Linked DNA regions of Homo sapiens. The protein of the gene in region 4 purifies or fractionates together with the protein of the main gene of each other region. This does not show direct contact. Each region holds a gene or a part of one and is shown on either strand. Other genes may lie near its edges.

Region 1 (5,432 bases), on a different chromosome or scaffold from region 4:
GTGAACCTGCCTCTCTTGAGTTTTTTAAGGTCATAAGAAGACAGGAAAATGAACTTTATATAGGGGAAAATACAGATTTGTGTGGCATTTCCTATCTGTTCATTTATTGGTACTGTAATGTAAAGAGCAGTATCAAGTTTGATATTACTAGGTGATGTGGCAATTTGGAAACTGCTAGACTGGAGGTTAGAAGACCTGGGTTCAAGTCTTAGATTCATCATGATAACCTTGCTAAGTTATGTCACTTCTCTGGTTCAGTTTCTTTTATTTGTAAAATGGAGAGAAATAATACCTTTCTGCCTGTCTCACAGAGCAGATTGCCCAACACGTGATATAATGGGTACAAATCCCCTTGTAAGACGGGACAAGAATCAGCCAATTTCAGGAATAAGGGCAGCTCATCGTTTTCCCTTACCACACTTCACCCTTTCACCATCCAGGAATTACACTGTTGTCAATATTTTATAGGTGTTTCAAATGATTGGTATGCGACACTTGATATGCTAAAAGAAAGCTGTCGAATTGCCAGCAGTGTTAATTGGTCAGATGTAGACCTTTCACAGTTTCAAGGTGAGTGTTGGTTCTTTTTGACATATAACCAAATACACATGATCCTGTTTCTCTGCTAGATTATAACTTTCTTTGTAGTAGAAATAAACATCATCTTATATAGCATTTCTTTTGCAGTTGGTAAAATTCATAATAATTTTGGCCACTTGGTATAGCAGAGGGTCACAGACAAGTTCTGAAAGAAATTTGACCACATTTAAAATAATTGGGCTTTGAATAATTTAAAAAGGTCATTCTTCATTGCGTGGATAAATCACTACCATAAAGTGGAGTGAGTGGAAATTTTGAGAGCTGAAAAAAATTATGTCTTGCTATTTTCCTTGCAATGTTTATTGCATAACAGTGCTAACATATTTTTAATGCTTTCCTCATAGGTCTGATGGAGAGTATGAGACAGGCAGATCTCAAGAACTGGTCTTTAGACCAGGTTCAGTTTGCCGATCTTTGTTCTTCTCTTAATCAGTTCTTTACACAAACTGGCCTTATACATTCACAGAGTAATGTTCAACAAAATGTTTGTCATGGTGCCATGCATCCAACAAAACCTTCCCAACACATTGGAACAGGTATGGGGTTAGTTATCTTCTTGATTTTTCTCATTTTCTCATTCGTACGAAATTTAGTAACTGTCTTAACCAACTTGGTTTGCTGCTAATGGTGACAGTGATCTGTTTACAAATTTTTATTTATAAGAAATGAATGAAAGCAAATAATTTATATGTAGGGTATATCTTAGAAAAATTGAGGTAATGAGACTATGTTTTTCTGTTGTGATTTATATGATTGCTTTATTATTTACAGTTAACTGTTGTAACCATTATCCTTTTACTAAGTTATCAAACAAGAAATATATTGGAGATACTTACGTTTTTATAGGAACATAATTATGAAATTATATTTAAATTTGTACAGATCTGCAATGGAAATCAACGTGTCTTGTGTATCTCCTAAGAATGTTAAAATTGAACAATTCGAAGTGTTTGAAGAGTAGACGTAATGGAAAATAGTCTCACTGATGTTTTACTTTAGACCCAAAATCTTTCCTGTATATTTTTTAAATCTCGCTTTCTTCCTTCATTCTTTACCCTTGCAGCCATGTCTTCTACTCTGATTGCACATTTTTCTGTAGGAATTTCATATCCAAGTTACTTCTTTCTTCATTTTAATTCCTTACCTTCTCTTATCATCAAGTTTACTTCTTTTCTGTATGTTATATTGATTTTACATTTTATGCCAACAAGCTCTCTCTTCTCTATCCTGAGTGGCTTCCTTTAACCATTATTCTATCTTACTTCACATCTTTCGTTCACCCATGGTTTGAGTTTATTCAAGTCAAGCTTATCAGTCTGTGTCTTTCTTTTCATGAAATCTTTATTCCTGTATCCTTTGATGTAGTGGAAATCTATTATCTTTTCTTCTTCCACGTTGAATAGCTTTTCCTAAGCTATTTTGAATAGCTTACCTTGCCTGAAACCTTCAGTCACTATTTGATTCTGGTGACCTATTCATTCAGTAAATTACATCCACACAAGGGCCTTGTTCAGTCCCTGGCTGATTGCCCTCTGTGCCAGACACTAAAATTTAGTTTTTGATAACTTTATAGCTTCTTTGTCTCTCTCTCTCTCTCCTTTTGTTAGTTCTTTTTGGTATCTTTCTGATATATATTCATTTTTAAGCATCAAGATCTCTGTAATTCAGGTATCCTCACTTATGTGCCCTTCTTCCATTTCTTTTTTTAAAATCTTTTCTTGCAGATGGACAGCGTGTCTTCTTTGTTTCTCTCATGGGTTCTAAGCCCATACTTTGTCCCTTTCAGGATATATCACTTTAATTTTTCCAACTTGCTTTAAGTCCTCCTTAGACCAGGTGTACCACCTCTCTCTGTTTTTTGTCCCTTTTTTCTCCTTTCCTCTTTTCTTTCTGTGTTCATCCAAAATTGTTGCTTCTGAGTGCTGTCATGCTGTTCACTTCTTTGCTAACTCCATCTCTAACCATTTCAGTCAGCCTCAAAAAGTACTAAGTGAAATTAAATAGCTTATGTATATATCACTAGTCTTGTGTGTTTGGGGGTAAGTACCTGTGTTGCTCATAGATTGTTGCCGTAGGCAGGAGAAGTAGAAGATGATGTGGGTCAGTGTTAGAAGAAGGCAGTCTCGGCCAGGCATGGTGGCTCATGCCTGCAATCCCAGCACTTTGGGAGGCCGAGGCGGGCTGATCACCTGAAGTCAAGAGTTCGAGACCAGCCTGGCCAACATGGCGAAACCCCGTCTCTACTAAAAATACAAAAATTAGCCGGACCTGGTGGCACATGCCTGTAATCCCAGCCACCCGGGAGGTTGAGGCAGGGGAATCGCTGGAACCTGGGAGGCGGAGGTTGTAGTGAGCCGAGATCACACCAGTGCACTCCAGCCTGGGTGACAGAGGGAGACTTCGTCTCAAAAGAAGAAGAAGAAGAAGGCAATCTCAAAAGCCAGTGTACATGTTAGGCAGCAGCTCTCATGTTGGTGAATTTCAGTTTTGTGCCCTAAGTCTGTAAGAAAGGTCTATGTGTACCTTTTGGTCTTGGAACTTGGTAGTTTTGTCATGGAAAAAACACTTTATCTGCTGCTGTCCTCTGTCAGAGTACCCAGGCACTCCTTCTAGATTCTCTCTAGACTGAGATCCTGAGTTATTTTCCTGAAGCCCTTTGTTCCTCAACTTCTGTAGTCATCTATTCTTGAGCCTTGACCTTGGTTATTTGTTCTGGTGTTCTGTGATTCTGTTAATTTTTTCTGTCATCTCTTTTGTTAGGGCCCTCCTCCTTTCTAGGGTCCCGATGACACCTTCGTGATTCTCAGTGCTACCCTAGTCACAGCCTATCAAAGGTAGAAAAACTATAGTTTTTCTTCAGTGTTTATTCAATTCTTTCTACTCTCACTCCCCTTTTGTATTTTCCTTCTGACTCATGCCTGCCAAGCTGTTTTGGCCTCTGACAACAGTTGTTCTCTCATCAATTATGGTGCTCCAAGTATTCATCACTTCATGCCTGCTGATGTCTGTTCACAAATATTCAGATTTTTTTTACGTGTCCAGCCTGCTTCCTCTTGTTTTAAGTGTCAGTGTCTTTCTGTCATTCCTTTTTTCTCTGTCTTACATCCCTGTGTATCACATCCATTCAGATCTTTTACTTCCCTCATCTCTGCACCCCAGTAATTCTTTGTCATAATTTCTTAGAAGTATAGTCAAGAGGAGACTTTCAGAGAGCTGTTAATTTTATCCCTTTATTTAACAGATAAGGACATTGTAATCCAGGGGGAGAAAGTGACTTACCCAATGTTGTAAAATTCATTTAGGTGTAGGTCTTGAGTCCCAGAATATAGTCTCTCCATTTCCTTAAACCTTTCCTGTCATTCCTGTCTTCAAGGACCCGCTTGGTAAACACCTCCATGAGCTTCCTGTAGACTCCAGAAATTAGTGGTGTAGTGTGCTAGTGTGGAAGGGGGAAGGGGAGAAGGTTGTTATAGAACACAGTCTATGACATCTTTTCCTAAATCTTTTTACCTGTGGTTATAATTTGTTTATATCTTCTGGCTCTACTATTCTAATTTGATGCGTTGCTTAAAGGTCATCATTAAATATAGGTAGGAATGCAGTCATTGAGCACACACTAGACACCTTTTCTGTGTCTAGCTTTGTATTGGGCACTGAGAATAAAGACATGACCCCTGTAGTAGCTTTTACCTAAAAGAGTTCACAACCTAGTGGTTGAGACAGATCCATCAAGAAATACAGTATGTTCACTTTGGGAGACCGAGGCAGGCGGATCATGAGGTCAGGAGATCGAGACCACCTTGGTTAACATGGTGAAACCCCGTCTCTACTAAAAAAATACAAAAAAATTAGCCAGGCGTGGTGGCAGGCGCCTGTAGTCCCGGCTACTCAGGAGGCTGAGGCAGGAGAATGGCATGAACCAGGGAGGCAGAGCTTGCAGTGAGCCAAGATCGCGCCACCACACTCCAGCCTGGGCGACAGAGCGAGACTCCATCTCAAAAAAAAAAAAAAAAAAAAAAATTCAGTATGTTGAGGGCTACACTTCTCCATAGGGTTTAAGTGCAATAAGAATTCAGAGAAAGGGGTGCATACTTCTCTTGGAAAGATGGAAAATTTTTCTAGAAGACAGCATATTTAAGCTGGACTTTGTAGGTTAAGTAGGATTTTGCAAGACAGAGAGGTCAGATCATGTCACGTCTGTTTTCTGCTCAAAACCCTCCATCTTTCTCAGTAAAGACCAATGTTGTTACTATGGCCTATATGGCCTACACAATCTGATCACTGATTATTTCTGATCTTGTCTTCTGCCTTCTCCCCTCCACGCCTGTGCTTCAACACTGCTGGTCTCCCTGGTGTTCTTTGAACACACTAGGTAGCACACTCTACCTAAACAGGGCCTTTGTACTTGCTATTTCCTCTTGTCCAGAGTGGTCTTCCCTCAGTTAGACACATGACTCATTTCCTCATCTTGTTCCGTTGTTTTTCCTCAAAAAACACCTGCTCAGGGGATGCCTTCCTTGGTCATCCTATTTAAATGGCACCACTACTCAGCAGTCCTTGTTCTCTCTCTCTGCTTTTTTTCCATAGCATGTTACATACTATTTAATTTACTTTGTTTGCCCCTACCCAACATGCCCAAGAATACACACCCGAAAAGCAGAGTTGTGTTTTTTCATTGCTGTATCCATAGTGCCTCGAGCAGTGCCTGAAATCTTTGGAAACTGCATTGGAAGTTAATTTCTTACATAGGAAATTCAGGAATACACTCATTCAGACTCTATATTGAGAATATGGGAAAAAATGAGAATTAATGGGAATTTCTATATGAAAAT
Region 2 (5,432 bases), on a different chromosome or scaffold from region 4:
CAGTGGCACGATCTCGGCTCACTGCAACCTCCGCCTCCTGGGTTCAAGTGATTCTCCTTCCTCAGCCTCCTGAGTAGCTGGGACTACAGGCACCTGCTACCACGCCCAGCTAATTTTTTTTTTTTTTGTATTTTTAGTAGAGATGGAGTTTCACCATGTTGGCCAGGCTGGTCTCGAACACCTGACCTCAGACGATCTGCCCACCTCATCCTCCCAAAGTGCTGGAATTATAGGCATGAGCTACCGTGTCCGGCCCACTCCTCCTCACTTTAACCCCTCCCGTGGCTTCTGGTTGCTTCTATTCTATTCTATTCTATTCTATTCTATTCTATTCTATTCTATTCTATTCTATTCTATTCTATTCTATTCTTTTGAGACAGTCTTCCTCTGTTGCCCAGGCTGGAGTGCAGTGGTATGATCTCGGCTCACAGCAACCTCTGCCTCCTGGGTTCAAGCGATTTTCCTGGCTCAGCCTCCCGAGTAGCTGGAATTACAGGCACGCACCATCATGTGGAGGGAATTTTTGTACTTTTAGTAGAGATGAGGTTTTACCATGTTGACCAGGCTGGTCATGAACTCCTGACCTCAGATGATCTGCCCGCCTCGGCCTCCCAAGGTGCTGGGATTACAGGCATGAGCCACCACACCTGGCCTTCTGGTTGCATTTAGAATCTGAGGGAGGCTCTACAGGGTCCGGTCCCATCCATCTCACCATGCATCTCTGTGGCCTTGCTCCTCCTCACTTGTTGTAGAGACGAGGTGTCACTGTGTGGCCCAGGCTGGTCTCAAACTCCTAAGCTTAAGCCATCCTCCTGCTCAGCCTCCCAAAACACTGGGATTATAGGCATGAGCCACTGTGCCCAGCCTGGGCCTTAGCCATGCGGGTCCCACTTGCTCCTTGAGCACATCTAGCTTTTTCCATCTCAGGCAGTTTCCACGTCGGCTTCTCCTGCCTGGATGTATCCCCCACCCCCATACCTCCAGCTCCTCTCACGTCTCCCTCCTCCATCTGTTCCTCCAGGTGTCAGCTTACCTGTCATTTCTCAGAGCACCCTCCCCTCACCTCTCAATCAAAAGTGACCTTGTCCTAGTTGTTCCTGAGACTCGTCCACAGCAATGATCACAGCGAAGAGTTGTATTTGTTTCTGGTTTCTTCGCTTCATATCTGTCTCCTTGGTTGACTCTCAGCCCCACGAAGGCAGGGCCTATGCCTGCTTTACCCACTGCTGCATACTCATCGTGTAGCCCTGGCCCCACATCTTTTAAATGCTCAATAAATACTCATTCCTGAGTGGATGCATAAAGCATGCATCAGGAAAGGGCCCATACTGGGCACAGTGGCTCTTGCCTGTAATCCCAGTGCTTAGGAGGCTACGCAGGAGGATGGCTTGGGCTCAGGAGTTTGAGACCAGCCTGGGCAACATAGCAAGACCTCGTCTCTACAAACAATAATAATAGTTTAAAAATTAGCTGGGTGTGGTGATGCGTGCCTGTAGTCCCAGCCACTTGGGAGGCTGAGGTGGGAGGATCACTTGATGGGAGATGGAGGCTGTAGTGAGCCATGATGGCGCCACTGCACTGCAGCCTGGGTGACAGAGCAAGACCCTGTCTCAAAAAAAAAAAGAAAAGAAAAAAGAAAAAAACAAAAAGAGAAAAAGAGCTCAGCCTTGTAGAGGAGAGAGGCTGGAGGCTGCATATCAGTGAGGCAACAGGACAACAGTTGAATAGTTGAGAAGAGAAATGAAAAAGGCCTTCCTTTAGTCTTTAACAGCAGAGGCAGGAAAAGCGGATAGATTCAGGAGCTCCAGAAAGTAGAACCAACTGACTGATAGAACACAGCAAGAGACAGGGACAGCAGATCTACACTGGGGGCTACAACTCAGGTGGTTGAGAAGAACATAGTGCAATTAAATGAAGTAACATGGGGGAAGGATAGCATATTTTGGGCTGTATCTCAACAGCCAAAGCTTGGAATTTGAGATGCTTGAAGGACATCTAGGTGGACATGTCTGGGAGGCAGTTGAAAATACAGTTCTGGCTCTCAGAAGTGAAACAATACTATATGAACAATACTATTTTGGATGATATTTATGAGTTCTTAGCACATGTCCGGTCCCATGTTAAGCCTAGAGGCAGCATCGTACATTGGTTAAGAGCTCAATTACTCTGAACTGAGTCAGATTGTTGGAGTTCACTTGCAAGTTCTCCAACTTGCATGATCTGTAACCCTCAGCAAGGTGCTTAAGCTTACTGTGCCCCATCTGTGCATATCTGGGGTAGTAATGGTACCTACCACGTTGGGCTACTTCCTATCAGGATTACAGTGAATTTAGAATAGTGTGTAGCACTCAATGAGTTTTATCTGTTTTTTGTTTTGTTTTGTGTTTTGAGACAGAGCCTTGCTGTGTCGCCCAGGCTGGAGTGCAGTGGTGCGATCATAGTGCACTGCAGCCTCGACCTCCTGGGCTCCAGTGATCCTCCCACCTCAGCTTCCTGAGTAGCTGGGACTACAGGCATGCACCACCATGCAAGGCTATTTTTTTTATTTTTGTAGAGATGAGGTCTCACTATGTTGTCCAGGCTGATCTCAAACTCCTGGCCTCAAGCAATCCTCCCATCTTGGCCTCCCAAATCTGTCATATTTTTATGATTGTCGTTAATCATCATAACAAGGCTGAGTGGTAGATAGGATTAGCATCCTCATGTTTTGACACGACGAAACTGAGGCTTAGAAAATTTAAGGTTGGGCCCAGTGGCTCACGCCTGTAACACTAGCACTTTAAGAGGCCGAGGCGGGTGGATCATTTGAGGTCAGGAGTTCAAGACCAGCCTGGCCAACGTGGTGAAACCCTGTCTCTACTAAAAATACAGAAATTAGCCAGGCGTGGTGGCACGTGCCTGTAATCCCAGCTACTTGGGAGGCTGAGGCAGGAGAATCGCTTGAGCCTGGCAGATGGAGGTTGCCGTGAGCTGAGGTGGTGCCACTGCACTCCAGTCTGGGCGTCTGGGCGACAGAGTGAGACCCTGTCTCAAAAAAAAAAAAAAAAAAAAAAAAAAGAAAAGAAAAAGAAAATTTAAGTAATTTCCCTGAAGTCACCCAGCTGGTAAACGGTGGAGCTGGGATTTGAATCTGACTCATTCATCCTGCATTGTCAGGTCTAAGTCCTGACTGAGCCACTAGCCAAAGAGAATGAGAGTCCTTCACAAGTAGTGAATGAGACATCACTCAGAAAAAGCCTGTTTGAGGCATGGTGCTGGGGTTAAGAGTAAAAGGCTTCAAGGAAGAACGACAAGAAAAAGGGAGAAAGACACTTTGATGTGTAGCGGGAGAGCCAAGCACTGTTGGGAGAGGAAAAAAGTTTGGGGCGTGTTGTGTGGCTCAGATACTCAGTGGTGCCACCTACCTGTGGGAGGACTTAAATCAGTAACTTTGGGATTTTGATTCCTGGCGGTATCTGGGTTTCTTGCTAAAAGTTGGTTCCATCTGATGCCTTCCCGAGCTATCCTGACCTTGGCTTTAATAATTCATAAATGCCACTAACGATCTACAAGTGAAAAGCATTTTCACATCAAGGTCTAATTGGACCCTCGTGGCCACCCGGAGACACAGGAACGACTAAATACATTCTGCAGATGAGGAAACAAAGGCTCATAGAGGGGAAGGGGTTTACGTTGCCTAAGAACTCTGACACTAGTATAGACAGGCCCGCACTGACTCTGAGATACATCACGTACCAGCTGTGGTCCTTTGGTAAGTTACTTAACCTCCCAAGCCTCAGTTTCCCTTTTCTGTGAAGTGGAGATGATCATGCCTGCCCTTAGATTTTCAGGAGCAAATTGGATTGTGGATACAAAGCTTAGGACATCCGGTATACAGTAAGCAGTCAATAATTGGGAGCCAGCCGTAGAAGTGGTGATAGTAGCTGAGACTCAAGTCAAATCCAGACCACCAATTCCAAACTGTGGGTTCTTGTTGCTGCTGAGAATGGCATGGTCATCTGTCATCAAGGAAACGGCACGAAGGAAAATAGAGCTAGTAATAACTATGGTTAATGAGGACGGTAAATGCTAATCACTGAAGGACTTTCGTCTCCAGCTAAGGAGATGAGTGTGATTCATGGGGAGGATTTAAGGCTATTGTTAAGGTTCCAACAATGAGAAGGGCCCTTGCAGCCATTAATATGGGTTAGAACCCAGACCCTGCCCTTTCCTCCCTGGGTGACCAATCCAGGTCTGAGTGTTAGTTTCTGCATCTATAAAATGGGGGTTAAAACATGTATTACTTGATTTATGAAAGCCAAGTGACATAAAGTGTGTTGAACATCGAGCCTGGAGTACAGTAAGTGTTCAACAAGTGTTTCATTTTTTTCTTTCCATCACACTTTCCTAAGGACAGTACATGACAGTAGAGTTATGCATCAGGAATACAGTCTGAGAAGTGCATTGTTAGGCAATGTCGTCCTTGTGTGAGCATCATAGAGTGTACTCACACGAACCTAGATGGTAGTGCCTGCTACACACCTGGGCTATATGATACAGCCTGTGCTTCCAGGCTACAAACCTGTACATACACACATGTAGAAACACACACACATATCACACACACATATGTAGAAACATATGTGTGTGTGTGGTATATGTGTGTGTATGTGTGTATTTAGAGATAGGGTCTCACTCTGTTACTGAGGCTATAGTACAGTGGCACAATCATAGCTCACTGCAGCCTTGACCTCCTGGGCTCAAGTGATCCTCTTGCCTCAGCCTCCTGAATAGCTGGGACCACAGGCATACACCACCATGCCTGGCTAATTTAAATGAAAATTTTGTAGAGGTGGGGTCTCACTATGTTGTCCAGGCTGGTCTTGAACTTCTGGCTTTAAGCGATCCTTTGTCTTGGTCTCCCAAAATGCTGGGATTACAGGTGTGAGCTACCATGCCTGGTCTATTTTTTAAATTACTGTGGATGGAAAGAAAAATGGCATGTATGACGTCAAATCTAGGAGGTAATGGGAAGAGGAAGGGGACGTGTGGGATGAAAATTTTTGTCTTCTTTTCCACAGAGAAGAGGGCAGCCAAGATGACCCGATGGTCCAGTTACCTGTTGGGATGGACAACCTTCCTTCTCTATTCCTATGAGTCAAGTGGAGGTAAGGACACTCAAAGCAACAGGGAGGATTTAGAAGCTGGAGAAGAATGAATGGGGCAAAGCAAAGATTCCTGGAACTAAGTAGGCAGGAGATGGCTTAGCAAAAATCTCAGAAGAAGCTGGGCGCGGTGGCTGACACCTGTAATCCCAGCACTTTGCAGGGCTGAGGCAGGCAGATCACTTGAGGTCAGGAGTTCCAGAGCAGCCTGCCCAACATGGTGAAACCCCATCTCTACTAAAAATACAAAAATTAGCCAGGCATGGTGGTGAGCGCCTGTAATCCCAG
Region 3 (4,162 bases), on a different chromosome or scaffold from region 4:
AACTTTATATTAATCATCTCAATAATACAGATTACAGAACTGAGTTTACAGATTACAGAACTTTTCATACTTTGTGGGTCAGAAAGGATAACCGTAAATTACTGTCTCCGCTTTATGGGTGGTAAAACTGAGCCACAGAGAAATTTCTCTAAGAAAATTTAAAAGGAATTGATGTTCATTAAATAAATATCCTCACTGATTTTTTTAAGGTAGAAAAGTACAATGCACAGTGTTAAAAAAATTACTGTAACAGCCTCATGTTCGAGAAGTCTAAAATTTTAAGGCTACTACATGTGTTAATTTTCAGTACATGTCCAACAGAAAACATCCTTTATTCCAGTTACATCCTGAAGATACCGAAGTCAGTCTTCTCTATTGGTGCGTTGAGGGCTGCACTAAAACTGAGACCCAAGACCAGTCTGGTGTCTGCTGGATCAATGATCCCATCATCCCATACCCTGACAAAAGAACAAAAAAAGAGTTATGAATTTACCACCAAACTACCATTTATACACTCTCCATGTGCAGAAATGCCAAGGAAGTTTTCCTTCAGGTAATATATGGATCTACTGATTAGCATCCATGTACCATAATCTCACAACAGAAACTACGTTCAAGACAGAGGGGGAAAACGTGGAAAAAAATGATATGACCTTCATCCCAGGCCACCACAGAATGTCATGTCAGGCTTAAGGCTTAAGGAACTACTTTTATAAGAGATCTCAAAGTAACCCCTAATTTGACAATACGTTTACTTATTTCAGGAAAAATTTTCCTATTCCTTTTCTTCCCACACAAATATATAAGCCAAGTTGGTGTATTCTGTCATTAATATGCAGAACCACATATACCCAGGTAATAACCTCAAACTTTACTGGAAAATGTATATTCCCCAACCCCCATCCAAACTCTTAAGAAACTATGAAAATTATTGAATAGGCTTCAGTACATTTTATCTTATTTATTATTATTATTATTTTTGAGATGGAGTCTCGCTCTGTCACCCAGGCTGGAGTGCAGTGCAGTGGCACGATCTCAGTTCACTGCAATCTCCGCCCTCTGGGTTCAAGCAATTCTCCTGCCTCAGCCTCCCTAGCAGCTGGTATTACAGGAGTGCGCTACCACACTTGGCTAATTTTTGTATTTGTAGAAGAGACGGGGTTTCGCCATGTTGGCCAGGCCAGTTTTGAACTCCTGACCTCAGGTGATCCGCCCACCTCAGCCTCCCAAAGTGCTGCGATTACAGGCGTGAGCCACCACACCCGGCCAGCTTCAGTACATTTTATTAATAAAATAGATACCTTCAAATGTAGGTCTTTATTTTTTGCTACAATAGGAAAAACAATAACTTTAAACTGCTTGCAGAAGAAACTTTTAAGTAGAAATTTTAGTTTCCTTCTCATTGACAACCTCAAATGTATAACGAAAAATGACTGAGAAATATTACTTTTTAAAGGTTATTAGTAGGTGGCAGTTTGCTTTTTTTATATAAACTCCCTTCGGTATCTGAACCTGGCATCAACTATTAAACCATTCTTACATTGACAGACATGAATCAAACCTTTGCTCATAAAACATTCATAATAGGGACCCTAAAGTATCAACACCCAATAAAAAGAAAGCCACTCTTGTCATCTGCAACCAGGTGAATTGATTACACTCCCTCTGAAGCCTGCAGCACAGCAAGCATGGTGATGAAGGGGCTGCTTAATAATGTTCATTAAAAAGACTGCCCCAGGTAAGAGGCACTAATGAAATGCCGGATAAAAGTTTGATTATAAAAACAACTGAGCAGAAGCAAATTGGCACGCTACATATGTAACCTATTAGGATTAAGGAAAACATTGTAGGTTTCAGTAACTGATAATAACAAGCTCTGTCTCTGAAAAGACAGATCTAGCCATGTTCAAACCTAAGCAGGCCAGGGAATTTTACTGTGAAGCTGAGATTTACTAAACCCAAGGAAGGTACCATAAACTGGCTTGGAAATCCTTTCAGCTTTGAAAGAAAGCTGCTGTCTCCATGCCACCAGCTGTTTCAACAGAAGGGTTAAACATCTACAGATCTGGCCAGGTGCAGTGGCTCATGCCTGTAATCCCAGTACTTTGGGAAGCCGAGGCGGGTGGATCACCTGAGGTTGGGAGTTCGAGACAAGCCTGACCAACATGGAGAAACCCCATCTCTATTAAAAATACAAAATTAGCCAGGCGTGGTGGCACACGCCTGTAATCCCAGCTACTCGGGAGGCTGAGGCAGGAGAATCCCTTGAACCCAGGAGGCGGAAGTTGCAGTGAGCCGAGATCATGCCATTGCACTCCAGCCTGGGCAACAAGAAACTCTGTCTCAAAAAAAAAAAAAAAAAATCTACAGATCCACAGAAAACTTTACTGTCTGTTAACATTTATTTCCAAAGATAAGTCTCTCTGGGCCATTTACTCTTCTGCCTTGAATGTAATCCATTAAAAAATAATAATAATGTTAGTATGAAAATAATAAAAGATGCAATCTTTCTCAAGAGATGATTTATCTTAGCCAGGGCTGAAAAACAAGCTAACAGCTCACACAAAATACACAATTTTTCAAACTTTAATATTTCAGCTGTCCCTGTGTATTTCAGTCAAAATCTTATGTGGAAAAAAAAAACTATAGAAAAGCTTAACAATATATATTTTATATTTCATCTCAAACCTCTTATACGGCTTTCTATTGCTTCTTTCCATTTACTGGCTACTATATGTCTGTTTACACGATGATAAAATCAGGAACATGTTTAGCTCTCAAAGACTATAAAATATTTTGTTCTTAATTAAATGAATCAAACCACCACAATAAAATATACCTGTAAATTTGTTTGTAAAAATATATATTCAGCAAAAAACCTTTAAAAATTCCCAAATATTGGCCAGCCACGATTACAGGTGGCTCACGCCTGTAATCCAAGCACTTTGGGAGGCCGAGGCAGGATCACTTGAGCTCAGGCATTCAAGACCAGCCTGGCCAACATGGTGAAACCCCATCTCTACAAAAAATACAAAAAAATTAGCCAGGTGTGGTGGCACATGTCTGTAGTCCCAGCTTTGGAGGCCGACGCAAGAGGATTGCTTGAGTCCGGGAGGCAGAGATTGCAGTGAGCTGAGATCACGTCACTGCACTCCAAACTGGGCAACAGAGTGAGACTCTGTCTTTAAAGAAAACAAAAACAAAAACACATACACACACCCAAATGGTATTATTTATCTCCTCAAACTAATTATGTTCTTGAAAATCAGTATGTTTTGTCTTTGTATCCACCAAGGAACCATTCAAATGATTGTAATGGACTCTAACTTTTGCTTTTTTTTTTTTTTTTTGAGATAGGGCCTTGTTCTGTCACCCAGGTTGGAGCACAGTGGCATGATCTCGGCTCACTGCAGCCTTGACCTCCCAGGTTCAACTGATCTGCTTGCCTCAGCCTTCTGAGTAGCTGGGACTACAGGTGCACACCATCACGCCTGGCTAATTTTTGTATATTTTTTGTAGAGACTGGGTCTCACCATGTTGCCCCGCTAGTTTCGAACTCCTGGGCTCAAGCAATCTGCCCGCCCTGGCCTCTCAAAATGCTGGGATTATAAGTGTGAGCCACTGTGCCTGGCCTGATTTTCTTTTCTCTCCCCTCTCCTCTCCAGTTTGCCTTCGCCAGCATAAATTACAACATAAGCTAATTTTACAAGATGCAGAAAGAGTTACTTTCTTTTTTCCATCTGCCCAAGGGATGAAAGGAAGACATGAAGCTTAGATTAGTCTTCGGAATGCAGAACACTAAAGTTGTTGAAGAAAGATGTGAAAGCAGGCACCAGCAGGTCTTCAGCTGGGACAGGCATGATAATTTATTACCTCATTAAGTGGTGTAAGAAAAAAACCGAGCCAACAGCGGCAATGGTCTGTGAGGTAATTATTTGGCGCCGACACACAGACCCTGGCAGTGACTAATCACCTTTCAAACGTACAAGCATACTTGTCAACAAATGCCAGTAAGTGTTCAACCAATCTCATGTTTAAAATGGGGTAAAAACAAAATGATCAAGGAGAGGGGTTTTTAAGCAAAAATTAGAACTTCTGAAGTAACACAGCCAAGCTTATAACTTATTCTCGGCTCCTAACATGGCCCACCTTGGGCTGCAGG
Region 4 (5,432 bases):
CAGCTAATTTTTGTATTTTTAGTAGAGACAGGGTTTCACCATCTTGGCCAGGCTGGCCTCGACCTCCTGACCTCAGGCGATCCACCTGCCTTGGCCTCCCAAAGTGCTGGGATTACAGGTGTGAACCACCACGCCTGGCTGTATTTTAAATAAAGATGGGGTTTCACCATGTTGGCCAGGCTGGTCTTGAACTCCTGACCTCAAGTGGTCTACCCGCCTCGGCCTCACAAAGTGCTAGCATTACAGGTGTGAGCCACCACACCCGGCCGATCTGATTCATTTCTTAGAAAACGTTTAAAACACTTGACTCAGCCATTTTGTTTTAAGTAAGGAACATAAAAACATACTCAAGAAATGAAACAAATATTGCAAAAACCTTAGTGCCATATTACAGCCAACAACCTAGAAAAGGGGAAATAAAGACAGAAGAAAAAGAAAAGAGAAGAAACAAGGAAATAAGTAGAAGAAAGAGAAGAGGAGGAGGAGGAAAGACCCACAGCCAGGGGAGAAAAACAGAAAACCCCACTAGGGGCAGACCTTATGCCAGGCACAGTTCTAAGCCTTAGGAGTCGAGAACACAACAGTGAAGGGTTCTGCTCATGGAAGATGAATGGCAGTGAAAGGAGCAAAGAAAAGAAAAACAAGACACAAATCAGAACATTTCAGATCACAAGTGCCTGGAAGATAAGAAACAGGTGACATTTTGCGAATGATCTGGGGCGGGTGCAGGGGTTTGGGGGCTGGATATTAGAAAAGGCCTCTCTGAGGAGGGGACACAGAAGCTGGGACCTGGATGGGGAGAAGTCGGCCACGCACAGATCCGCAGAGAAAGCTCCAGGAAGAAGGGATAGCAATTGTGAAGTTCTCAGGAAGAACAGGCTTGGTGCTGTCCTGAGAGAGGGAAGTGTGAGCCCACGGCCTGAGGTGGGGCTGCAGCCACAGACAGGGCCCAGTGGTTGAGGCCTCCCTTCAGCCATGGACAGGACAGGAGGGACATGATCGATGCACAGTGGAAAGGATCTCTCTGGACTGGCGAGCAGCAGGGGCTGACAGACGACGCATGTCTGGGGCAATTCAGAGGCTGAGCTGAGAGACGCGGAGCCTCTGACAGGGGGAAGCTATGGGGGTCGGGGTGGGGCTTAGGAAACATCTGGGCTATGACAGACAAGATTCGTCGAGAGACCCCCCATAGAAAGCAAGGTAGAGGAAGAAATCCTGTATGGGTGGGTGGAGATGACTTTTCCTGCTATAAGAAGGGCAAGACAGAAAAGGCAGGGCTGGGAGTGAGGCAAGCTCACAGAGGGGGAAGAGCAGGGACAAGAACCTGGGCAGCATCACAGGGGCGGTGGTGTCTGAAGCCAGGGAGAGAACAGCCTGGGAGAAGTGGGTCAGGCCTGCGTCTTCAGGCCCACTGGAGTTGAGTCTGGCCGAGGAGGAAGAGCCAAGAAGGAGCCCAGGGGGGATGCCTGGAGGAGGGAGGGACGCACGGGTCGCTGGGCAGAAGCGAGCGGCTCTCAGGAGGATGGGGCGCGAGTTGGGCAGAGCATGACTCCCAGAGGCAGGGTAAGATGGGGGCTGGGAAGGGGCCACTGCGGTGACCAGGAGGCACCCAGGTCACACCCGGCTATGGTGAACGTGGGTAGAGTAACCTTGCTGGACTCTGGGCTCCTCCTCTTTCTAAAATATACCTTGTCCTTATTCATTGCACAGTGGAGAAACCTGGCGGACACCACGCTGACCGAGAGATGAAGGTTAATATCACTAGCACCGAAGGGATACCACACACCTCCTGATGGGGTTCCCGCTGCCGTGCACGGCCTGAATTTAATCAGGAGAAAGCAAGGGGCAAACTCAAATTCAGGGAAATTCCACAGAATAACTGGCTTGGACTCTTCAAACATGTCAAAGGTCGTGAGAGACAAAGACGCAAGAACGGTTTCAGATGAAAGGAGACCAAAGCAACAATGGTGAGAGCCACACACGATCCTGGATTGGATCCGGGTTTCTATTGCTAAGAGGACATCAGGGGACAACGATACAATTTAAATAAGGTCTGCAGGTTTGAAAGAGGATTGCGTTGATATCAATTTCCTGATCTTGATCAGTGGACTGTGGTTATGTTAGAGAACAGCCTCATTCTTAGGGAAAAACACTGAGGAACTCAAGGGTCCACGAGCACCACATCTGCAATTTACACCCACTCACATGGTTCAGGGAAAAACGGGAACAATGAAGCAAATGCTAGTATTGGGGGAACTGGGGTCAGGGGTACGAGAATTCTTTGTCTTACTCTTGCAACTTTACTGAAAGTCTGAAATCATTTCAAATTGACAAGTGAAAAGAACCATACCCACCGCTAATGCCGCTGGAGGAGATAACCTTAGGGAGTGCATGCCCCAGCACCTGCTGCTCAAGAGGTGCCGGGAGCACCAGCGAGGAGCTCAGGTGTGGAGACACCCTGCTCAGAGCAGGATGAACGTCAGACGTTATCACCCTGCTATCTCCCACATGCAGATCTACAATCCTCTAAGCCCTGCTCCAGGCGAGTTATCGGATGCTGCCCACTAGGAGGACAGGTCTTTCCCAGCTGGGAGCAGGCGGCACTGGCATCAGAGAGCAGGTGTGGGGTGTAAATCTCACCCTCCTCCTGGGCACCAAATGTCTACTCTGCTGAGCGCTGGGAAAGGCCATGTCAAAAGAGCTCAAGTTACCACATAGGGCAAAGTCAGGAAGAGGCGAGGGGAGCCTTCGGGACAAGCACAGCAACAAGACAGCAAACACAAGTGGCTCTTGAACCCACGAGAAAGCAAGAGATTCAAAATACAACCATGAGGTGCCACTCCTGCCTGGGAGCTTTGTAAATGCAGTGCTGAGCGCCAGGAAGGCCTTCAGGAGGCGGCCCGCAGGCACTGCTGAGCATCACGGCAGCTTCTCCGGGAAGCTGTTTGCAAAACTTATCAAGAGCCTTTAAGGTATTTATGCCCGGCCAGGCGCGGTGGCTCACGCCTGTAATCCCAGCACTTTGGGACGCTGAGACAGGCGGATCATTTGAGGTCACGAATTCAAAACCACCCTGGCCAACATGGTGAATCCCCGTCTCTACTAAAAGTACAAAAATTAGCCCAGCATGATAGTGGGCGCCTATAGTCCCAGCTACTCGGGAGGCTGAGGCAGGAGAGTTGCTTGAGCCTGTGAGGCGGAAGTTGCAGTGAGCCGAGATCGCGCCATTGCATTCCAGCCTGGGTGATAGAGCGAGACTCCATCTCAAAAACAAAACAAAACAAAAAAAGCCGGGCACAGTGGCTGACGCCTGTAATCCCAACACTTTGGGAGGCCAGGGCGGGTGCATCACGAGGTCAGGAGATGGAGACCATCCTGGCTAACACGGTGAAACCCCATCTCTACTAAAAAATACAAAAAAATTAGCTAGGCATGGTGGCGGGTTATGCCCCTGAGCCCAGTCATTACTATTCCAGAAATCCAACCCCAGGAAATATTCCAAAATGGGAACCAAGATGTACGCAGAAAGATGTTCAAAGCAGCATTATTTACAACAGAAAATCATGAGAAGCAATTTAAAGATTCCACACCCTGGCTCCCACAGACATTATGTAACCATTAACAATAATGTGTTTGCACAGGTTTTGATGACATGGGAAATGCTTGTGATGTAATGTGAAGCCAAGAAAATTTAATGGTAAACAACATGATCTCATGAAGTTTTTTTAAAGGAATGGCAACAACTGTAGGACTGCTTGCATGCCACCCTCCTCACTCCCACGTGCTATGGAATTGCTGTAGAGTTGTGTTTTCCTCCTTCTTTATGCTTTTCTATATTTCCATATGGAAAATTTCCATATTTTCTCCATTGGGGATGCGTTATTTATAATTAGAAAAAAAAGAAGAAATATACAGAAGGGACAGGAAGAGCTCCGCAGGAAAAGGCGAAGGGAGCTCCTGCTACACCGACTCCTTGGGTGGGAGGACTTGGCTATGTGTCTCCCAGGAGCCTAGCACCCTCCCCCTCCTCACCTGCTGGCCTGCCTATAGGTGAGCAGCCTCACAGCTGGCAGCAGCCCACTGGCACCGAGATTCTCAAACCTCCAGGGCAGTTTCAAGCTTTTTCCAGGGAGCCCCAGTCCTTTCCTCCCACCTGGGTGGGTTTACCCTGCGACCACAGGGGCACTTACCCGTGGTTTGTGGGTAAACAGGTCATTTTTGTTGCTCTCCTCCCCTGTCCACACCACACTCACTCCCCACTGCCTTTTCCATGCAAAGAAAGAGATTTCCTCAGAAGATATGCCAAAGGCCGGTCACCTCCAGAGCCTCTGGAAGGCTGCACCCTGCCCCACAGCGTGGCCACCAAGTGTCTGCTTAGCTCAGGCAGGAAAATGATGGAGTGCTGACATGTTGCCGCCCCCTCGGCGGCCCCTCTCACATACATTCTTGCATTGGATCCTCATTTTTTCTTGGTGGGTAAAGGATTCCTTAGCAGTCCCACTCCACCAAGAGCCGGAGGCTGTGGGCAGCGGGGGGCACAGGAATGCCTCCGTGAGTCCTTGTGTCCCTCAGAGGGAAGCGAAAGCAGGCCTAGACTTGAGGCCAAGAGGACTGTCCCCGGGGCACGGGAGCTCTTTGGGTGGCAGCATGCCAGGCAGATGTTTATGGAAGGGAAAAGATCAGGGCTCTTCGGCTGAAGTCAGAGCAGGGAAAAGTGGAACAGAGAGTAGCCTCCTCTGGGGCACAGCCCAGCGCAGGCCCACAGTCCACTGGCCGGGGGCTGCCCCAGCTCCATGGTTTGGGCACCTCTGAGGCCCCAGCTTTCACATCTGTAAAACGGGGTTCCACCAGCCCACCCTAAGCAGGTCATCCTGGGGGTCGACTGAGACAGTACAGCTAAAGCGCCATGCCTGGGTGACAAACATCAGCTGCTGTCACTATCTTCCCAACTCCCTCCCCTCCCAGATGAACAGAGGGCCAGGGAGGAAGCCCCCGGCCCCACACAGCTGGAAGGCCCACACACTTGCGCCCTCCCACTCGCACCATGATGCAGCTCCATGCTGACCTCCCCACAGGCCAGGCCGTCCTGGGGTGAAGGCAGCACAGGCAGCCCACCCACCAAGCCAGGCTGACCATGCACCCAATGCTTAGCAGAGTTCACTGCATAGGGGAGCCAGCAGGTGTGATGCCCACATACACTTGGAGCAAACACACAGGCCCGAGGACACCACGTGCTTTTGCCAATGCAGAAACCTGTCCCCAACATTCCTCTGCAAAGGAAGACCCACCCCAAACAAAAGTAGTTGGGAGTGTCAGGTGTTGCAGAGAGGGGGGCACCTGTCCCAGAGCACTCACCCTGTACCGGCCTTCAGTGCACAGAGGAGGGTGTCTGAGGAGCCACAGACAGCTGCTCTTCTGCCTGAGGTTACTGG
Region 5 (3,500 bases), on a different chromosome or scaffold from region 4:
ACTAAAGAGTTCAGAATTTTAAAGCTAATCCATGTCTTTTTCTTTTAGGATTAAAATAATGCAGAATATTGGAGTTACATTTATTCAGGCTGGTCAGTATTCAGATGCTATTAATTCATATGAGCACATAATGAGCATGGCACCAAATCTGAAGGCAGGCTACAACCTAACTATCTGTTATTTTGCTATTGGAGACCGAGAAAAAATGAAGAAGGCATTCCAAAAATTGATTACTGTTCCATTAGAAATTGATGAAGATAAATATATTTCACCAAGTGTGAGTATGAAAAAGACATTTCTGTAGCCACTTCCCACTTATCTGTGCTTTTCTGTTTTCAGAATGAGAAAGCCAGAATAGATGACTTCTTGGGTTTTTCCCAGGCCTGTATCAATGTGTTTTATTATTGATGTATTTCATTTTTTATTTAAATTGGGTTGAGAATGAGACTCTATTGAAATGGGGTAGAGATTATGGTTAAAACAGACTGCACAATTTTAGTAAAAAAATCATTAAAAATAAGATTCCATGTCATTCATTAAGCATAATATCTTTTTTTTTTTTTTTTTTTTGAGACAGAGAGCCTGCCTTCCAGGCTGGAGTGCAGTGGTGCAGTCTCAGCTCACTGCAATCTCTGCCTCCCAGGCTCTGGCAATTCTCATGCCTCAGCCTCCTGAGTAGCTGGGATTACAGGCATGCGCCACCATGCCCGGCTAAGTTTTTTATTTTTAGTAGAGAAGGGGTTTTGCCATGTTGCCCAGGCTGGTCTTGAACTCCTGGCCTCATGTGATCCACCTGCCTCCACTTTCCAAAGTGCTGGGATTACAGGTATGAGCCTGGCCAAGGGTAATATCTTGACCAAGAAACCTCCAAATCCTTATTTCACCTATTAAGAGCCATTGTGGAGCAGAGGGAACCTCAACTGTGTATAAATATCTCAAGAGCGAAGGCTGGGCGCAGTGGCTCACACCTGTAATTCCAGCACTTTGGGAGGCTGAGGTGGGCAGATTGCGAGGTCAGTAGTTTGAGACCAGCCTGACCAACAGGGCGAAATGCTGTCTCTACCGAAAATACAAAAATTAGCTGGGTATGGTGGTGGGCGCCTGTAATCCCAGCTACTTGGGAGGCTGAGGCAGGAGAATTGCTTGAACTTGGGAGGTGGAGGTTGCAGTGAGCCAAGATTGTGCCACTGCACTCCATCCTGGGTGACAGAGCAAGACTCTGTCTTGAAAAAAAAAAAGTGAAATAAATTCCTTATCCTTACTCATAGAGTGGAACATAATGCAGTTATCAAAAGTCATATTTTCAAACACCTAGAGAAATATTATATAATGTTAAGTGAAAACATACAGCTATGCACACTTATACATGAACATAAACTGGAAGAATTGACACCAATATAAAACAGTAGTTTCTGAGCTATGAGATTGTAAATGCTTTTGAAATATTTTCCAGATTTTTACAAATAAAATATTGGCATACTGTATATTAGTTTAAGGAAAATTGCCTCTATTTGTAGATAAAAATGGTACATTTTCAATTTCACAGAGTTGAACTTTTAATAGATTTTCTTAACAGATTATATTAGCTGGGCATGGTGGCGGGTGCCTGTAATCCCAGTTACTAGGGAGGCTGAGGCAGGAGAATCACTTGAACCCGGAAGGTGGAGGTTGCAGGAGCCGAGATCGCACTATTCACTCCAGCCTGGGTGACAAGAGCAAAACTCCATCTCAAAAAAAAAAAAAAAAAGATTATAAGAGTACTGTAGCATAGCAGAGTATAGGCTCTGAAGCCAGATGCCTTGGCTCTCCTACTCAGCTCTTACTCTCCCTGTGTCTCAGTTCTTTTATATATGTAATGGGATTAACTATTATAACCTATCTTACAGGGTTAAGGTGAGGATTATAGGTGAGGATTAAATGAGTTAATGCATGTGAAATGCTTAAAATAGTACCTGGCAGCTGGGCACAGTGGCTCACACCTGTAATCCCAGCACTTTGGGAGGCCGAGGTGGGAGGATTGCTTGAGCCTGAGAGTTCAAGATCAGCCTGCGCAACATGGCGAAACTCCATCTCTACAAAAAAATACGAAAATTAGCCAGGCTTGATGTTGCACACCTGTAGTCCCAGCTACTTGGGAGGCTGAGGTGGGAGGATCACCTGAGCCCGAGGAGGTCAAGGCTGCAGTGAGCCGTGATCACACCCCTGCACACTAGCTTGGGTGACAGAGTAAGACCTTGTCTCAAAAAAATAAAAAATTAGCCAGCCTGGTGGTGTGCACCTGTAGTCCCAGCTACTCTGGAGGCTGAGGTGGGAGGATCATCTAAGCCCGGGGAGGTCAAGGGTTTAGTGAGTTGTGATCACAACATTGCTCTCCAGCCTGGATGACAGAGTGAGACCTTGTCTCAAAAGTAAAATAACAAATAAAAAAAATATATATTAGCCAGGCATGGTGGCACATGTCTGTAGTCCCACCTACTCGAGAAGCTGAGTGGGAAGATGGCTTGAGCCCAGAAGTTGAGACTGCAGTGACCCATGATCATGCCACAGTGCTCCAGTCTGGGCAACAGAGCAAGACTCTGTCTCAAAACAAAACTAACCAAACAAAAAAAATGTATGTGAAAGATAGTTAAGTGCTGGGCAAATGTTAATTATTATATATTATTTTCATATTGAGAAAAAATAATATATGTTGTAAAATCATCTGTGTTTTTAATGGGGAGTAGAGATATGGATCATACTAAGTAATTGATGATTGAAGCATTTATATTTGAGTTTAGAATTAAAGTATTACATATTTGTACTAACAACCCCAGCTTCTGTGTACTTGGTCCTAATCTTTCCATCCTGATCCTTTTATCAGCTTCTTAGAATAGGTTAGTTCAATGGAGAATGTGATTGGTAATCAGAAATATGAAAAAGAAAGTTCTAATTTACATAAGGGAAAATAGAAGGATTAATTTACTCTCCCTTTTTTAAAACTAATTAGTAGGGAGGCTTATTGGAAATTCAAGTTCGTGGCTGGACATGATGGCTTATGCCTATAGTCCCAATACTTTGAAAGGCTGAGGTGAGCAAATTGCTTGAGCCAAGGAATTGAAGACCAGCCTGGGCAAAATGGTGAAACCTCATCTCTACAAAAAATACAAAAATTAGCCAGGCATCATGGCATGCCCCTGTAGTCCCAGCTACTTGGGAGGCTGAGGTGGGAGGATCACCTGAGCCCAGGGAGGTGGAGGCTGCAGTGAGCCATGATCATGCCACTGCACTGCAGCCTGGGCAATAGAGTGAGGCTGTATCTCAAAACAAAACAAAACAAAAATTAAGTTCTTGCTGTTTACTTCTGAATTATTCTTTTTTTCTTCCATTTTATTTTACCAGGATGATCCTCATACTAACTTAGTAACTGAAGCTATAAAAAATGATCACCTCAGGCAAATGGAACGTGAAAGGTAATATTTTAAACTTAATAACGTAGTTATTAATTACATTATTTAAAATAT
Region 6 (5,432 bases), on a different chromosome or scaffold from region 4:
TGCTCTTTTGTGTTGTGTGGTAATTAGTGTGAATAACAAGTGTCACTTCAAAAGTCATCATTATACCTTGCATCATATATGATTATAAAAGATAAAAGCTATGGAGTTTTGACATTTAAGTAATTATTGAAACAGGAAAAGCAAAATAAATCTATTGACATTTCTAATGTTATGATTGTTAAATTAATATATTATCTTTCTCAGGCTCCTGAAATGTATATCAGTGTGATATGTAAACACTTGCAACAAGTGAAAGAATTAATGGGTAGATTCAATATGAAAAAGAAAACTTCAAACTTTGATGTTTAAGTAGCTCTGCGTATTTATTGCCATGTCCACAGATGTCATCGCAACAGATAAAGAAGACGTTGCCTTCAAAGACCTGGATGTGGCCATTCTTGTGGGCTCCATGCCAAGAAGGGAAGGCATGGAGAGAAAAGATTTACTGAAAGCAAATGTGAAAATCTTCAAATCCCAGGGTGCAGCCTTAGATAAATACGCCAAGAAGTCAGTTAAGGTGACCAATGCTGTATTTTATGGGATTTTTCATTATTAGCATTTGAAACTTATGCTTTTAGCATTTAAGCAAAACCAAAATTATTTGCCCTTTTTTCTAGTTCTGTACAATCATCAGTAAATACGGCTCTAGAGTTTTGCTTGATAAGCTCTCCCTTTCTGGGTTTTTTCTTACAGTATAGAAATCTATATTCAGAGTGCTCAAAAATATTTTTCCTATTAGTATAACGTGAAAATTTAGTATTAGTTCTTAAACATATAGAGAAGGCACAGGATCTTCTGGTGCATTTTTGCTGCGTGGGAATATTTATTTAGACATTTAAATTTGTGTGTGATTGTGAAAGGAGATAGCTAGCTGTAAGGTAAGTTTATTCTCAGGAATAGAAGATAGTGGTTTCTGAATGCTCAGATTTTCTTAATGCAGAGGAATTTTAATATGCTTGTCTCTTGAAGAATTGAGTCAGTATGACTTATAGTTCTCTCTTTGTGTTCAAACTATTTACTTTAGATTCTAATATGTCTTAATATTACAGTAAGCCTTTTTTATTTTTTATTAATTTTTTTAATTTTTTTGAGACGGAGTCTTGCTCTGTCACCCAGGCTGGAGTGCAGTGGTGCAATCTTGGCTCACTGCAACCTCTGCCTCCCGGGTTCAAGCGATTCTCCTGTCTCAGCCTCGTGAGTAGATGGGACTACCGTTGCACGCCACCACACCCAGCTAATTTTTGTATTTTTAGTAGAGACGGGATTTCACCATGTTGGCCAGGCTGGTCTCGAACTCCTGACCTCAGGTGATCCACCTGTCTTGGCCTCCCAAAGTGCTGGGATTACAGGTGTGAGCCACCACGCCCAGCCAAACCTTCTTTTATTAGTGAACTATCAATTAACTAGAACTTAATTGTCACCCAGCAAATAGGCTTGCCGGTTAAAGGTTTAACTGATTTCCATATACTTTCCTATCTTTCAAAAAAAGGTGAAAGAAAATTTTTTAAGATTTTTTAAGTTGCCCATTATAATGTTCTATCAATAACATTTCATAGATATCTGCATTTTTTGCTTTCTGTGCACTTCATTTTAAATAGTTAACTTATTTTCTGTCATCACAGAAAATAGTATAAATGAGTTTAATAGAAATCCACAGGTGCCAGTAAAAGATTAGAAGATTGTTCAGACTGCTAAATTGCAGGCTATTTGGAGGTAAAGTACTCCTTGCACAGTAATTCCACTTCTTCAAAGCGTCCTTGTTCGTGAGAAATATTTGCCAGCACTGCACTACTTAGAGACAATGAAGTATCTTGTCTACAGCTTGTCAAAAGAGGTACCAAAAAAAAAAAAAAAAAAGATATATGGGAGTCAGTCTCTGTAATATGGTTGTAACTTTTCTATAAATCTGATATTATTTCAAAATTTTTTATTACCATTTTATAAAAGATTTTTATAACTTAAAATGCATTTTCCTATGCTATATTGTATTTGGTGTTTCCCAAGCCTCCCCTGTACAAAGGCTACCTGTTAGACATTTTCAGTCAAATTTTAACATAGATTAGTTAGTAACTATATAGTCTGTAACTCTTCAGTGCCTTCCATTCCTCCTAGGTTATTGTTGTGGGTAATCCAGCCAATACCAACTGCCTGACTGCTTCCAAGTCAGCTCCATCCATCCCCAAGGAGAACTTCAGTTGCTTGACTCGTTTGGATCACAACCGAGCTAAAGCTCAAGTAAGAAAAATATATTTTAAATCTTGTGGTTGTTCAACTTTAAAACATTTTTCTCTCACTTTTAAAATAACTGAATCTGAGTTTGTGCTTTTTTCTTGTTTTTGTTTAGTAGGAACCTATTACTTTTATTAAATTAAAAGTAAATTATTATTCATTTGTTAGGGAGTCTTTAAATGTATTCTCTTAAAGGACCAGAGGCTGGACTTCCTACTTGATTTCGTCTTTAACTATATTTCAATTGCTAACTATAATGAAATGCAGTTACTAATGTTCTCTTGTTACAGTGGTTAAAAATTAGTTATACATGATGGTACATAATTTAGTTTAATTTTTTCAGATACATATAATCTCATATAAACAAAGACTTGAGCTTTGTGTGATTGTGTGGTTCTGCTTCTATTTTAGCTGCAGCTAAGCCATCAAATTCAGATTTTAATTTTTAATTTTATATTTAATTTTCATTTTATGTCTTTTTAATATTCTATGTGTATCTGTAAAATTTCCTCCTTTCACTACTTAGGAGCTAAAGTCTGTTGCTAATTTTCTTTACTCTTAGAGCCATAGATAAGTATGCCAAGGAGCCAGTGACCAGGGAATTAACAATAGCTTTTCAAAAAATTAGAAGCCAGGCAACTGATCTGAGCTAGTTTCCTAGGCTTTTTCAGATCTAACTGGTCCTGGTGCCCGTTCTTGGACAGAACCTCTTTCCTTTGCCCTAATGCTTTTCTGGCCATCCCTTCTTGTCTGTAGGTCATCACTGCTAGATAGGTCTATGAGTTCAGTGCTTTTTCTTCTAGAGAAGATAACTTTAGTTTCAAAAAAAAATTGTTGTTAACCAGAAGATGCTGTGAGGTCTAAGCTGAAGCACTACTGCCCTAACCTGAGAATTAATAATCCTTCAGCTCTGGAATGCCTAGTGAAAGAGAAAAGAATATACATTTGTTAAGCATCTACTGTAAATTGAATGCTATACATGTAATTTTCCATTTAATTTTTATAGTAACCATATGGGTATCTCATATTATCCCTGCATTAGGTAAGAAAACTGAGGCCCAGGGAAGTCAGAGAACCTGCTCAGAGTCATACAGCTCATAAATTACGGAGCCACCTTGATTTGCCTGACTCCAAACCCTTATGTATGTTCTTACCTAATGGTATCAACTAACCTTAGTCCACTTACTAGCTCTGTGATTTTGAGAAAGTATATTCAATGTTTAAAATGTAATAATTGTATCTACCTCAGAGAGTTCTTATGAGGATTAAATAAGATCTGTTTTAAGCCCTTAGCATGGTGCCTGCACATAGTAAATACAAGAAAGGTTGGCTGCTATTATTAGTTGATTTCTTCTTTCTAAGAAGCATACAGCCTAAACATTCCTAATTTAGAGGGTTGTTGGATAACAACCCTTAAATTTTTAGCTTAAAGTGCAAATATTCCCTGAGAGGCTATAGGCTGTGAGCTGGGTCTGGTGGTAGCTGAGAACGAATAGGAGTTTGTTTGAATGGCAGGCAGTTTGAGTTCTGTGGGACAGTTGTAAAGGAAGAGATATTATACATGTTACAGTTGCAAACTCTGGATTGCCAGAAAGTGACTTATTTAGTTCCTACAACAAGAAAGTTCCTACAACAATGACACTAACAACCACTTTTTGTTGTTTCACCTGAGGCTTTGGTGGAGACAGGCATTGGAAAATTCTGCTTCCAAAGGTACTTCAAAGAGATACTTTGTCCTGGTGCCTGAAACAGTTCTCACTGCAGGGCTCAAGTCTGAATGAGCAAAGAGGAAAGAAAGTGCTATCTCCTCAGACTTTAACCTTCACTTGGGGACATGTTCTTTGTTACTCCTGGGACCTTGGCTAGGCATTGTTTCAGCATGTCAATCTGGCATAGTGAGAGCTTTTAGGGAGTCATTGAAGAAGCACTTTCTTCCTCTAGAAGAAGTTGTTTATCCAGTGAGAAAAATAACAAACCCAAAGATAAGTTTTTCTTACAGGACTGGTTGCTAGATATTTTTGTCTTGGAATTCAGAGGCCTTAGCGACTTAGGGACTGTTTAACACCTGCAGAACTTGCCTGTGTATTTGCAAACCAGTGCTGTATTTATGTCTGCTGATAAGGTAATTTGACATTGATACCAGATAAGGTAATTTGACAATGATACCAGTTAGCTTGTAAGAAAATTACTAGGGCTGGAGAATTAATCAAAAACTTTTAACAGACCTATGTGACAGACATGAGTGTCTAAGGGAGCAAAGAGCTGTTATCCTGGGTATGTATTAATTTAGACTAATTGTGACATGAATCATATTAAGAAACTATATCTGCTGGATGCAAAGTACCTGGCCTTTGCTGTCCAGACAGAACTGGATTAGCTCAAGAGATAGAAGGAGCAAGAGGAGGAGGGCAACAAGAACAAAGGAAGGCATGGGAGCCAAGGAGGACTGAGGGTGGAGAGGCCTAGAGGCATTTTGTCTTCACTGTACTTGGGAGCATTGAAGCAGACATTCAGGGAAGTTATAGGCTCTAACTTCCTGGTAATATATATCTTGAGTTAATTGTTCAAGGTATAAATTTATCTTTTTCTATATACCATACCAGCTAAATTTAAGTATAAATATAAGAGCAGTTTCTTCCCCAGTTCTTTCTGGTCATGGCAGACGTAAAAAATGGTACTCATTGAACAGCGTGCCACTCTACCCTATCCCACAGGCTAAGCAGATCAATAGCTGGGTACCCCAGAAACCCAACTGTGAACTAATTTGTGGAGACTAATGCAAATATTGTAGATAATAGTCCTAATACTTGCAAGACTTGCAGGGATTAGATCGGTCAAAAGTGATTTACAATATCACAAACATAAATTTTTAAGTAAACTTTTAACTATTTTAGGATTTAAGAAAGCAGTCTCAACTAGTTTAAGAGTGGGAGTGAAAGTAAAGACAGTTTACTTCTTACTTAACTGAATAAATTAGTATGAAGACCAGTCGAGTCATTGCAGACATTTTAGGTAATGGCCTTTTTTTTCATCTTTATCCTTTTCGGTTGGTTGGTTGGGGTTTTTTTTTTTTTTTTTTTTTGCTTTTTATTTTGAAATAATTTTAGACTCAAAAGTCGCAAAAAAATAGTACAGAGAAGGCCCATGTACCCATCACCCATTGATGGTACCTTACATAACTACAGAGTATTATCAAAACCAGG

What was found.
Region 1: the proteins of PC (region 4) and FOXJ3 fractionate together in Homo sapiens (co-fractionation; one large-scale study listed by BioGRID). This does not show direct contact.
Region 2: the proteins of PC (region 4) and ELSPBP1 purify together in Homo sapiens (co-immunoprecipitation; one large-scale study listed by IntAct). This does not show direct contact.
Region 3: the proteins of PC (region 4) and MCCC2 purify together in Homo sapiens (affinity purification with mass spectrometry, with the first as the bait; one large-scale study listed by BioGRID). This does not show direct contact.
Region 5: the proteins of PC (region 4) and IFT88 purify together in Homo sapiens (co-immunoprecipitation; one large-scale study listed by IntAct). This does not show direct contact.
Region 6: the proteins of PC (region 4) and MDH1 purify together in Homo sapiens (co-immunoprecipitation; one study listed by IntAct). This does not show direct contact.

The regions. Positions count from the first base shown.
Region 1 is NC_000001.11:42,184,441-42,189,872, reverse strand, and holds part of FOXJ3 (forkhead box protein J3), read left to right. Parts: intron 1-468; coding exon 469-570; intron 571-944; coding exon 945-1,136; intron 1,137-5,432.
Region 2 is NC_000019.10:48,003,591-48,009,022, forward strand, and holds part of ELSPBP1 (epididymal sperm-binding protein 1 precursor), read left to right. Parts: intron 1-3,491; exon of another isoform or gene 3,492-3,633; coding exon of another isoform or gene 3,634-3,751; intron 3,752-5,060; coding exon of another isoform or gene 5,061-5,077; coding exon 5,078-5,147; intron 5,148-5,432.
Region 3 is NC_000005.10:71,653,039-71,657,200, reverse strand, and holds part of MCCC2 (methylcrotonoyl-CoA carboxylase beta chain, mitochondrial isoform 1 precursor), read right to left. Parts: intron 459-4,162; coding exon 341-458; 3' UTR 1-340. UniProt on the Homo sapiens protein: Carboxyltransferase subunit of the 3-methylcrotonyl-CoA carboxylase, an enzyme that catalyzes the conversion of 3-methylcrotonyl-CoA to 3-methylglutaconyl-CoA, a critical step for leucine and isovaleric acid catabolism.
Region 4 is NC_000011.10:66,874,120-66,879,551, forward strand, and holds part of PC (pyruvate carboxylase, mitochondrial precursor), read right to left. Parts: exon of another isoform or gene 4,191-5,432; intron 1-4,190. UniProt on the Homo sapiens protein: Pyruvate carboxylase catalyzes a 2-step reaction, involving the ATP-dependent carboxylation of the covalently attached biotin in the first step and the transfer of the carboxyl group to pyruvate in the second.
Region 5 is NC_000013.11:20,601,657-20,605,156, forward strand, and holds part of IFT88 (intraflagellar transport protein 88 homolog), read left to right. Parts: intron 1-48; coding exon 49-277; intron 278-3,378; coding exon 3,379-3,449; intron 3,450-3,500. UniProt on the Homo sapiens protein: Positively regulates primary cilium biogenesis. Also involved in autophagy since it is required for trafficking of ATG16L and the expansion of the autophagic compartment.
Region 6 is NC_000002.12:63,597,058-63,602,489, forward strand, and holds part of MDH1 (malate dehydrogenase, cytoplasmic), read left to right. Parts: intron 1-341; coding exon 342-517; intron 518-2,112; coding exon 2,113-2,235; intron 2,236-5,432. UniProt on the Homo sapiens protein: Catalyzes the reduction of aromatic alpha-keto acids in the presence of NADH. Plays essential roles in the malate-aspartate shuttle and the tricarboxylic acid cycle, important in mitochondrial NADH supply for oxidative phosphorylation.